2 separate regions of the Homo sapiens genome follow, and region 2 is reported to be linked to region 1. Evidence: microRNA targets listed by miRTarBase, many of them from high-throughput screens and not tested one by one. Region 1 holds a microRNA gene; the other region holds the end of a gene's coding sequence.

Region 1 (4,244 bases):
TGACTCGCTGGATCCCCTCCGGCCCGCGGTCCCTCACCTCGGGCCGCGCGCCCCGCCCCTCGTGCCTGCCGGCAGGGCCCGGGTGGGGGCGCCGAGTGAGGCCAATGGGCGGGCACGGCGCGGACAACACCCCGGGCACTGCGCTTCGCCGCCGCGCCTCATTGGCCGGGCGTGCGCGGGAGGCGGGGCGCGGGGGACGTGGTGGGCGCGCGGGCGGGGCGCGGGGACGCCTCAGACAAAGAGCGCGCTGGGTGCGCAGGTCCGGCGGGAGGGGACGCGCGGGGTGGCGGGGTTGAGCCGAGGACTCCCCCACCCGGAGTACGCGGGGTGGCTCTGGTCTGGACCGGGTCGGGAACCGGACCCTGGGTTCGGAGTCCGGCGCCGCCGCAGAACCTCAGCGCCCTAGTCTGTGCCGTGCGGACCCTGCCGCGAAAACGGCCGTGGAGCGCCGGGACGTTCCGAGGCCCGCAGACTGGGACGCCGCTAGTTGCGAAACTCCGCGAGCGGGAATCGCCCGTGGGGAGCCTCTGCCCGTCCCGCCTGCGCGCCCGCGGCGGCGGTGGCCTCCGGGGCTTCCGGACTCCTGGCCGAACCCGCCGGGTTCTGGGGGTCGGACGCGCACGGGCGCTTCCTGCGGAGCCTGAGGCTGGGATTTGGGCGGAGAGCAGGGAACCTTAAAAGGGAAAGGGGCCATGGGCAAAGGGCGCAGCAGGCCTTCGGGCCACAGCTCCTTCCCGAGGACTGCGGGTCGCGGGAGCCGCGGAAGGTTGTGGAGAGAGGGAGGTTCCTGGACTGGGCTGCAGAGTGGAGTCGGGCCAGATCGCAGCGCCTCCGTCAGCGGCGGCCGGACGGGGCGAGACCGGAGGGGCTCGGTAGGGGCCGCGCTCAGGCGCTGAAGTCGGAGGGTGCTTGGCTCTGGGTCACCAGGGTATCCATGGGCTGCGGGGATGAATGAGAGCCGAGTCTGACTCGGCCCCCCAGGAGTCCCTGACATTCGCAGTGGCAAGGGACTGCCCTGGTCCCTGTGGAGCGTCCCATTCGGTGACTTCCCACCAGCCCTTCCCCAGCGCCTCTGGAGGTCCAGACTGTCAGGTTGGAGCCTGGGAGCAGGGACGGGCCAGGCGCTTTCTCTTCGCTGTAGGAGTCAGATCAGCCTTAGGCCGGGCCCAGCTTCCTTCTTTAGGGCCTGCAGGCAGGCAAGGCCACACCGTGTGCCACGTTTCCAGGTTTAGGGTCACATGGTTCTTTTATCCAAATTCCAGTGGGTACCTACCTCCTGGAGGTGCAGGTCGAAAGGTTCTGTGTATTTGGTACTAGGACACACAGGTAGGTGTTGTCAGTAGTGCAGCCTGGTGCTAGGGGCAGGGGTCCCCAGTGCTCATGTTAGTTTCCTTTTAGAGTCTAAGTAGAATGTTAAGCAGAGACCCAAACCCTAGGTCTGCTGACTCCTAGTCCAGGGCTCGTGATGGCTGGTGGGCCCTGAACGAGGGGTCTGGAGGCCTGGGTTTGAATATCGACAGCCTCTCTGACCCACTTGGTTGCCTCAGGGAGGCAGGTGTGCGGATGGGGGAGAGTGGCCCATGGGCCAGAAAAGCAGTGGTATGGGGGCCCCAAGAGAAGCCCAGACCCAAAAGGGCAGGAGCTGGCTGTGGGGCTACTCAGGTGGCTGGAGGCCTCCTGCAGACACAGTGATTACACTGGACTACCTACATGTAGTCACTTACCTTAGGAACAGGATGTCCTTGGGATGCTGGAGGGCTCATGAGGTAAAGCACAAATCCCTGCACATCCATTCCTGGTTGAGGAGGTTTGGGAGGGAAATCCAGTACCTTGACAGCATGTGGCAGTAGTGAGAAAATGATGGAAACGGATAAGGAGACAAGCATGACCTGTTTTGCTTTGTTATTGAGAGAATGCACATGCCTTGAAAATTATGCTTGGGGCAGGTTGCACTGAGCTGTCAGTCCCTGGGGTCCTTGGGAAGGGGCCTAGTAGCCTGGTAAACAGTAGGTATTCCATAGTTGAGCTTCAGAAACCTCCTTGAGGCTGGGTTCAGTGGCTCATGCCTGTAATCCAGGCACTTTGGGAGGCTGAGGCAGGAGGATCGCTTGAAGCCAGGAGTTTGAGGCCAGCCTGGGCAACATAGTGAGGCCCCATCTCTAAAAAAAAAAAAAATCGGCAGGATGTGGTGGCGCATGCCTGCAGGCCTGTAGTCCTAGCTACTCAGGAGGCCGAGGCAGGAGGGTCGCTTGAGCCCAGGAGGTCAAGGCTGCAGTGAGCTATGATCGAACCATTGTGCACCAGCCTGGATGACAGAGCAAGACCCTATTTCAAAAAGAAAAACCTCCTTGCAGGGAGGGTCCTTTGTTGAGAGAGCTGAGGCAGGCCGTGTGAGGGCAGCAGTGGGATCGTGCCAGGCCTGGGAGATGAGGAGTGCGGGCCCTTAGCTGTGCACTTTGCAAGGAGAGGGCAGGGTTCTGGGTGTGTGTGTGTGGTCGGGGGAGGGCTGTTGGATTTGGGGACTAAGGTCAACATGTGGGGGACAGTGGAGGACTGGGCTCTGGGACAGATTTGCCTGACCTGACCCGCCAAGGGAGCCTCAGCTCCCTTGTGGGTGACAGGGGGCTGCCTTCAGCTGGAAGTACCCTGAGGGCAGGTCCCAGGTCTGTCCCCTTCATCTTGGTGTGCCCAGGGCCTGCACAGTTGACACTGGGTGGGGGACATTGGGGAGGGGGTGAGGACAGGCACTGGAAAGGGATGCGTCCACACGGGTGTGCTGCTGGGTTACTAAACTTTGCAAAACCACATCTTCCTGAGCACCCTGTTTCCCTGCTGCCTGGGAATCATGCACTCAGTCGGCGCACTGCCCTGTGCCCTGTGTTGGGGACAAGACAGACACAAATCCCTGACCTCCATGTCAGGGCTGAGGAGAGACCAGAAAGGAGGAGTGAAAAAGTTGGTGCCAAGTAAATGAATCCGTATGCCTACATCTTGGACACTTGGGTTCAGTGTCTATTGTTTTATTTCATTTCCTGAGGATAAGGTTACAGCACAGAATGTGCTTTCTCAAACTCCCATGTTCCACAGAGCCCTGGACCTCCCATCCCAGAGGAGGCAGGGCTCTGTGCAGCCCTGAGGACCCCAGCCTTTTAAGGGGCAGGGCAGACCCAAGGCCAGCACAGGACAGCAAGGCCGGAGGGACTGTCACGGGGCACCGAGGGTCAAGCCAGCTCACTGGAAAGGGTGTGTTGGAGTTTTCCCTGTGTACAGCTTTTATTCTCACACAAGACAGGTTCAGTGTGGAGAAATCAGAAACGCCAGAAAGTAAAAAGGAAACGCAAGTCTCTGTCCCCACCCTGGAATCTTGGAGCTGAATGACCCCCTGCAGGAGCTGTTTGGGCCAGGACTTGGGGGGGGTGGCTGCAACTCAGGCTGCCAGAGGGCAAGTTGAGGGGGAGAGGATGAGGCACCAGCTGTGTAGACCTTCCCAGGAGTTAGGCTGTGCAGGGGAGAGTGCACAGAAGGGCTCTGGCAGCAAGCACAGGTGTAGACTCGGGATGGGAGCCACCTGAGCAGGTTGCAAACTCCTGGCCAAAGATTGGTGGGGCCGGCGCGCTGTCAGTCGCCTCCTGTCTCATATTGGAATACTCGAGCTCAGTGCCATGGTGTGAGGCCCAGGGTAACCAGACTACAACCTCACCTCCCACCTTTCATGCCCTCTGGCCCTCTTATTGGAGCCCACCCTCTAAGCTTGTGCCCCTCTCAGGGCCTTGGCACTGGCAGCTCCTCTGAGTCCCTGGGGTCCTTGGGAAGGGGCCTAGTAGCCTGGGATTACAGGCACCCGACACCATGCCTGGCCAATTTTCTGTATTTTTAGTAGAGATGGGGTTTTGCCATGTTGGAAGCTTCTGCCTGGCCTGGCGTCGTTACCTCTAGAACTTGGGTTCTGGCTGGGCGTGGTGGCTCACGCCTGTAATCCCAGCACTTTGGGAGGCCGAGGCGGGTGGATCATGAGGTCAGGAGTTCAAGACCAGCCTGGCCAAGATGCTGAAACCCCGTCTCTGCTAAAAATACAAAAAAATTAGGCGCGGTGGCAGGCACCTGTAATCCCACCGACTCGGGAGGCTGAGGCAGGAGAATCGCTTGAACTCAGGTGGCGGAGGTTGCAGTGAGCCGAGATCTTGCCACTGCACTCCAGCCTGGGTGACAAGAGTAAGACTCCATCTCAAAAAAAAAAAAAATAC
Region 2 (4,244 bases), not on the chromosome of region 1:
CCATGGCGGCAAGCCTGGTCTGGTCCTTTCCTGCTGTATTGGTGCTGGGTTGGGCAGCCACGGCACTGCTGGCCAGCCTCTGATGGGTGAGGGGGCCCCTCACCCCTTGTGCCCTTCCTGCCCCTTCCCACTGGCTTCCTCCATTGACCTCATGAGCGCAAGCTCCCAGGCCCGTGTGTGTGTTGGGCCGAAGACTGGGGAGGACTGCCCCACCTGCCCTTAGCCCCTGCCTGCCCCATCGCCTTCTCCCAGGGAGGCCCAGGGAGGGCCTGGAGGGAGTGCGCATGCCCAGGGTAACCTGTTTCCCTGCCTTCCGCTTGCTCCCAGGTATAAGGCAGGAGCCTACCTGGACATCCCTGCTCAGCCCCGCGGCTGGACCTTCCTTCTGCATTGTTTACATTGCATCCTGGATGGGACGTTTTTCATATGCAACGTGCTGCTCTCAGGAGGAGGAGGGAATGGCAGGAACCGGACAGACTGTGAACTTGCCAAGAGATGCAATACCCTTCCACACCTTTGGGTGTCTGTCTGGCATCAGATTGGCAGCTGCACCAACCAGAGGAACAGAAGAGAAGAGAGATGCCACTGGGCACTGCCCTGCCAGTAGTGGCCTTCAGGGGGCTCCTTCCGGGGCTCCGGCCTGTTTTCCAGAGAGAGTGGCAGTAGCCCCATGGGGCCCGGAGCTGCTGTGGCCTCCACTGGCATCCGTGTTTCCAAAAGTGCCTTTGGCCCAGGCTCCACGGCGACAGTTGGGCCCAAATCAGAAAGGAGAGAGGGGGCCAATGAGGGCAGGGCCTCCTGTGGGCTGGAAAACCACTGGGTGCGTCTCTTGCTGGGGTTTGCCCTGGAGGTGAGGTGAGTGCTCGAGGGAGGGGAGTGCTTTCTGCCCCATGCCTCCAACTACTGTATGCAGGCCTGGCTCTCTGGTCTAGGCCCTTTGGGCAAGAATGTCCGTCTACCCGGCTTCCACCACCCTCTGGCCCTGGGCTTCTGTAAGCAGACAGGCAGAGGGCCTGCCCCTCCCACCAGCCAAGGGTGCCAGGCCTAACTGGGGCACTCAGGGCAGTGTGTTGGAAATTCCACTGAGGGGGAAATCAGGTGCTGCGGCCGCCTGGGCCCTTTCCTCCCTCAAGCCCATCTCCACAACCTCGAGCCTGGGCTCTGGTCCACTACTGCCCCAGACCACCCTCAAAGCTGGTCTTCAGAAATCAATAATATGAGTTTTTATTTTGTTTTTTTTTTTTTTTTTGTAGTTTATTTTGGAGTCTAGTATTTCAATAATTTAAGAATCAGAAGCACTGACCTTTCTACATTTTATAACATTATTTTGTATATAATGTGTATTTATAATATGAAACAGATGTGTACAGGAGTTTATTACTTATTGGGTCCTGTCTTTGTGATGGTACCCCTGCCCTCTCACCCAAAAAACTCTAAACTCCCTTCTACTGCTGCCATGTGCCCCGCCGGAACCCCTGGGACCCGTGCAGACACTTGGATTTGGCATGTCGTACCCCAGGCCCTTGTCTTCTTCCATTCGTTGAGGAGCCGAGCCTCACCCATCTAGTCCCCAGCCTCAGCCAGCCTTCCTTGCCTGCTGACTTTGAGTTGGTACAGTGCCCCCTTCCCTCTTTATGCCCTCACCATTCCTGGGGCATGTTCCTCCTGACCTGAATCACTTCTTCCTTCCTCTCTTCAAGCCTGAAAAAGCTTATGGGGCTCCCTAGTTCTGCCTGTTTTTCTCATATTCAAAAGGATTCTCTTGGCCGGGAGCGGTGGCTCACGCCTATAATCCCAGCACTTTGGGAGGTCAAGGCGGGCAGATCACGAGGTCAAGAGATCGAGACCATCCTGGCTAATAGGGTGAAACCCCGTCTCTACTAAAAATACAAAAAATTAGCCCAGTGTGGTGGCGGGTGCCTGTAGTCCCAGCTACTCGGGAGGCTGAGGCAGGAGAATGGCATGAACCCAGGAGGTGGAGCTTGCAGTGAGCCAAGATAGCGCAACTGCACTCCAGCCTGGGCGACAGAGCGAGACTCCATCTCAAAAAAAAAAAAAAAAAAAAAAGCATTCTCTCGTCGGTGGATGGGATAGGGCCTCTGCACCCTGGTGACATCTGAGTCCTTCCTCCTGCTGTTGCAGGGTGCCTGGCTCTTTTCTTAGCCCCAGCAGGGTACAGGTCTCAGGAGACAGGGCAGGAGGGAGGTTTGCCTTGTTTTTCCTCTTTGTAGCAGACAAGAGCGCTGAGAGTCTGAGCACCTTGTCTGCCCAGGGCTGCTAGAATTTATTGAAGACTGCAAAGACAGGGAGAAAGGGGAGGAGGAGGTAGCCTTCCCTGAGTCCAGGTTTCTCTTGCTGAGGCACTAATGAGGGGGTTTCCAGTCTCACTAGGAGTTTCATGCCTAGCTTCCTCTAAGGCACAGGATAGTCCCTAGGGTGCCACAGCCCTCTCTATAGCCGAAAATATGCTCCTCCATGGAGAGCAAATTATGAAAAAATGAGCCACTGACAAAAAGCTGAGCAGATGCTCCCAGCTCTCAGCCTGTCCACAGTAAAGCAAAATAGACCCATTAGATGCCCTGCTCCTAATGGAGTCCAAGGGTTTGGAGTGCTACTTGCCCTCCCTTTTTTCCTCTCTCCTTGACACAGACACACCATGCCCACCCCAGACCTGGGTGCTTATGCCAGAGACACAGGAGCACGCACACGCTCCACGCCTCACTCATCGCTCCCTGTTCCCTTCACTGTACACACAGGGTATCAAACAGGAAAGCATTCAGGGAACCGTTCCCACAGCCTGAGCCGGCAGCAGGGGGAAGAACAACACGACCTCACTCTTCCTGCCCAAAATGAAACAGGAAAGCAGCTCCCAGGCCCTAGGGGTGTACGGGAGGGGGGAACTGGGCTGGGACACGAAGGCAAGATGACGAGGCTCCCATGTGGGGGACAGGTAGGACACCCGCAGCCCTGCACGTCCACAACACCAGGCTGTGACGGGCTGCACAGGCTGCCAGACTCGCAGAGAAGAGCCCCGGAGAGGAGTTGGCTGGCAAAGCTCACAGCTGCTCTGATGCACTAGATGGGGAGCTGGAGAGCCCACCAAAAAAGCTGGCTTTCTGGGGAAAGTGGGGACCCGTGGGGAACTTGGTCTGGGCAGCTCCGACCTGCAGCTCATGCCAGGCTCCACCTTTAACAACATCCCACAAGCTGGGCAGGCACTTGGGGTGTAAACAGGCCACAGCGGAGGAAGCCCCTTCTCCCCAGGATTTCCTGAGAGTCCAGCCCCTTCTGATAGGTAAGGCACCCAAGACCCTCATGATCACTTGAGTGTCCTGGGGTACAGGAGATTTCCTAGGCTTGGCAGAAAGGAGGCCAGATAATGGTTCTAGACTCACTGTGAGGTGCCTTCCACAGGTTAGCAAATGCCCACCTTTAATTTGCATGGGTATTTCACCAGGGAATTCGGAGTTTAGTAGTTCCTTAACAGCCTGGAGCCAGTGCCCTGCCTGGAGAATCAATTTGACCCCACGGTGACCTGAGGACAGCTGCTTTTCCAGGGCCCCTCGGCTGGTAGAGTCAGGGAGGGGTTGTGCAGAAGGAGAAATGACTTTATCCTGCTTGCTCAGCCAGGGTTCCTCTCCTGCCTCAGGGCCAGGGTCAGCCTGGTCAGGGGGTAGGGAAAAAAGGACAGTGGCTCCCACCTCCCCCATCCCAGGCTAGAAAAGGCCACCAGACTAAACCACGGTGGTGTGGATGCTCCATCTCTTGACTGGGACCCACAGAGCTCTCCGTAGCTTCCCTCGCCGCAGCTCTCCCAGCCTCTCCCTCTGGATCCACAGGATCAGCGGCCCCAGCCCTCCGCCCCACGTGGCTTGCTGCATTCCGGGAAGGGGGTGGAAATGATTCACTGGGGGAACTGTGACTGTCCCTTCCTCGGGCGGGGATGCGCCTGCGAGGTCCCAGCGGCCTTCCCTGGGCGGCTGCGCCCTCCCTCGCGCCCAGGGCGCCCCGAGGCCTGCGCGGCGGCGGAAGGGGCAGGTGCGCCTGCCCGCCCGGGTCAGCCCTCCACCTGCCGCCGCCGTGCCCCGCAGCTCCCGCGGCTCCCCGCCCCCCGCGCTCTTTGTTACAGCCCGACTTCCTGTTTGCGGCAGCCGACCCGGCTCACTTCCCGGGCCGGGAAGCCGCCGAAGGCCGCGAGCTTCTCGGAGGCTCCCCCGCCCGCTCGGCTCCGCCTCCTGCCTCCC

What was found. The annotated mature microRNA hsa-miR-345-3p reads GCCCUGAACGAGGGGUCUGGAG and lies in region 1 at 1,477-1,498, shown strand. An mRNA with a match to its seed (bases 2 to 7 or 8) in the 3' UTR can be bound and repressed. Matches are read on the target gene's strand: a 7mer-m8 pairs with bases 2 to 8, a 7mer-A1 pairs with bases 2 to 7 and ends in A, and an 8mer does both.
Region 2: miRTarBase lists DLL4 as a target of hsa-miR-345-3p. Seed matches in the 3' UTR shown: 7mer-m8 at 613-619.

Annotation. Positions count from the first base shown.
Region 1 is chr14:100,306,436-100,310,679 of GRCh38, forward strand. MIR345 (microRNA 345) reads left to right here and starts at 1,424; the gene lies at 1,424-1,521. It overlaps SLC25A29 (solute carrier family 25 member 29), which reads right to left and starts at 9. Exons shown (of 4, transcript NM_001039355.3): 1 at 1-9. RefSeq lists silencers at 1-469, 560-629 and enhancers at 720-789, 820-989.
Region 2 is chr15:40,937,702-40,941,945 of GRCh38, forward strand. It overlaps DLL4 (delta like canonical Notch ligand 4), which reads left to right. Exons shown (of 11, transcript NM_019074.4): 11 at 328-1,372. The coding sequence ends at 333. Among named protein-coding and RNA genes, the nearest start is that of DLL4, 10 kb to the left of the region's middle. RefSeq lists enhancers at 500-1,316, 2,599-2,658 and a silencer at 3,949-4,244.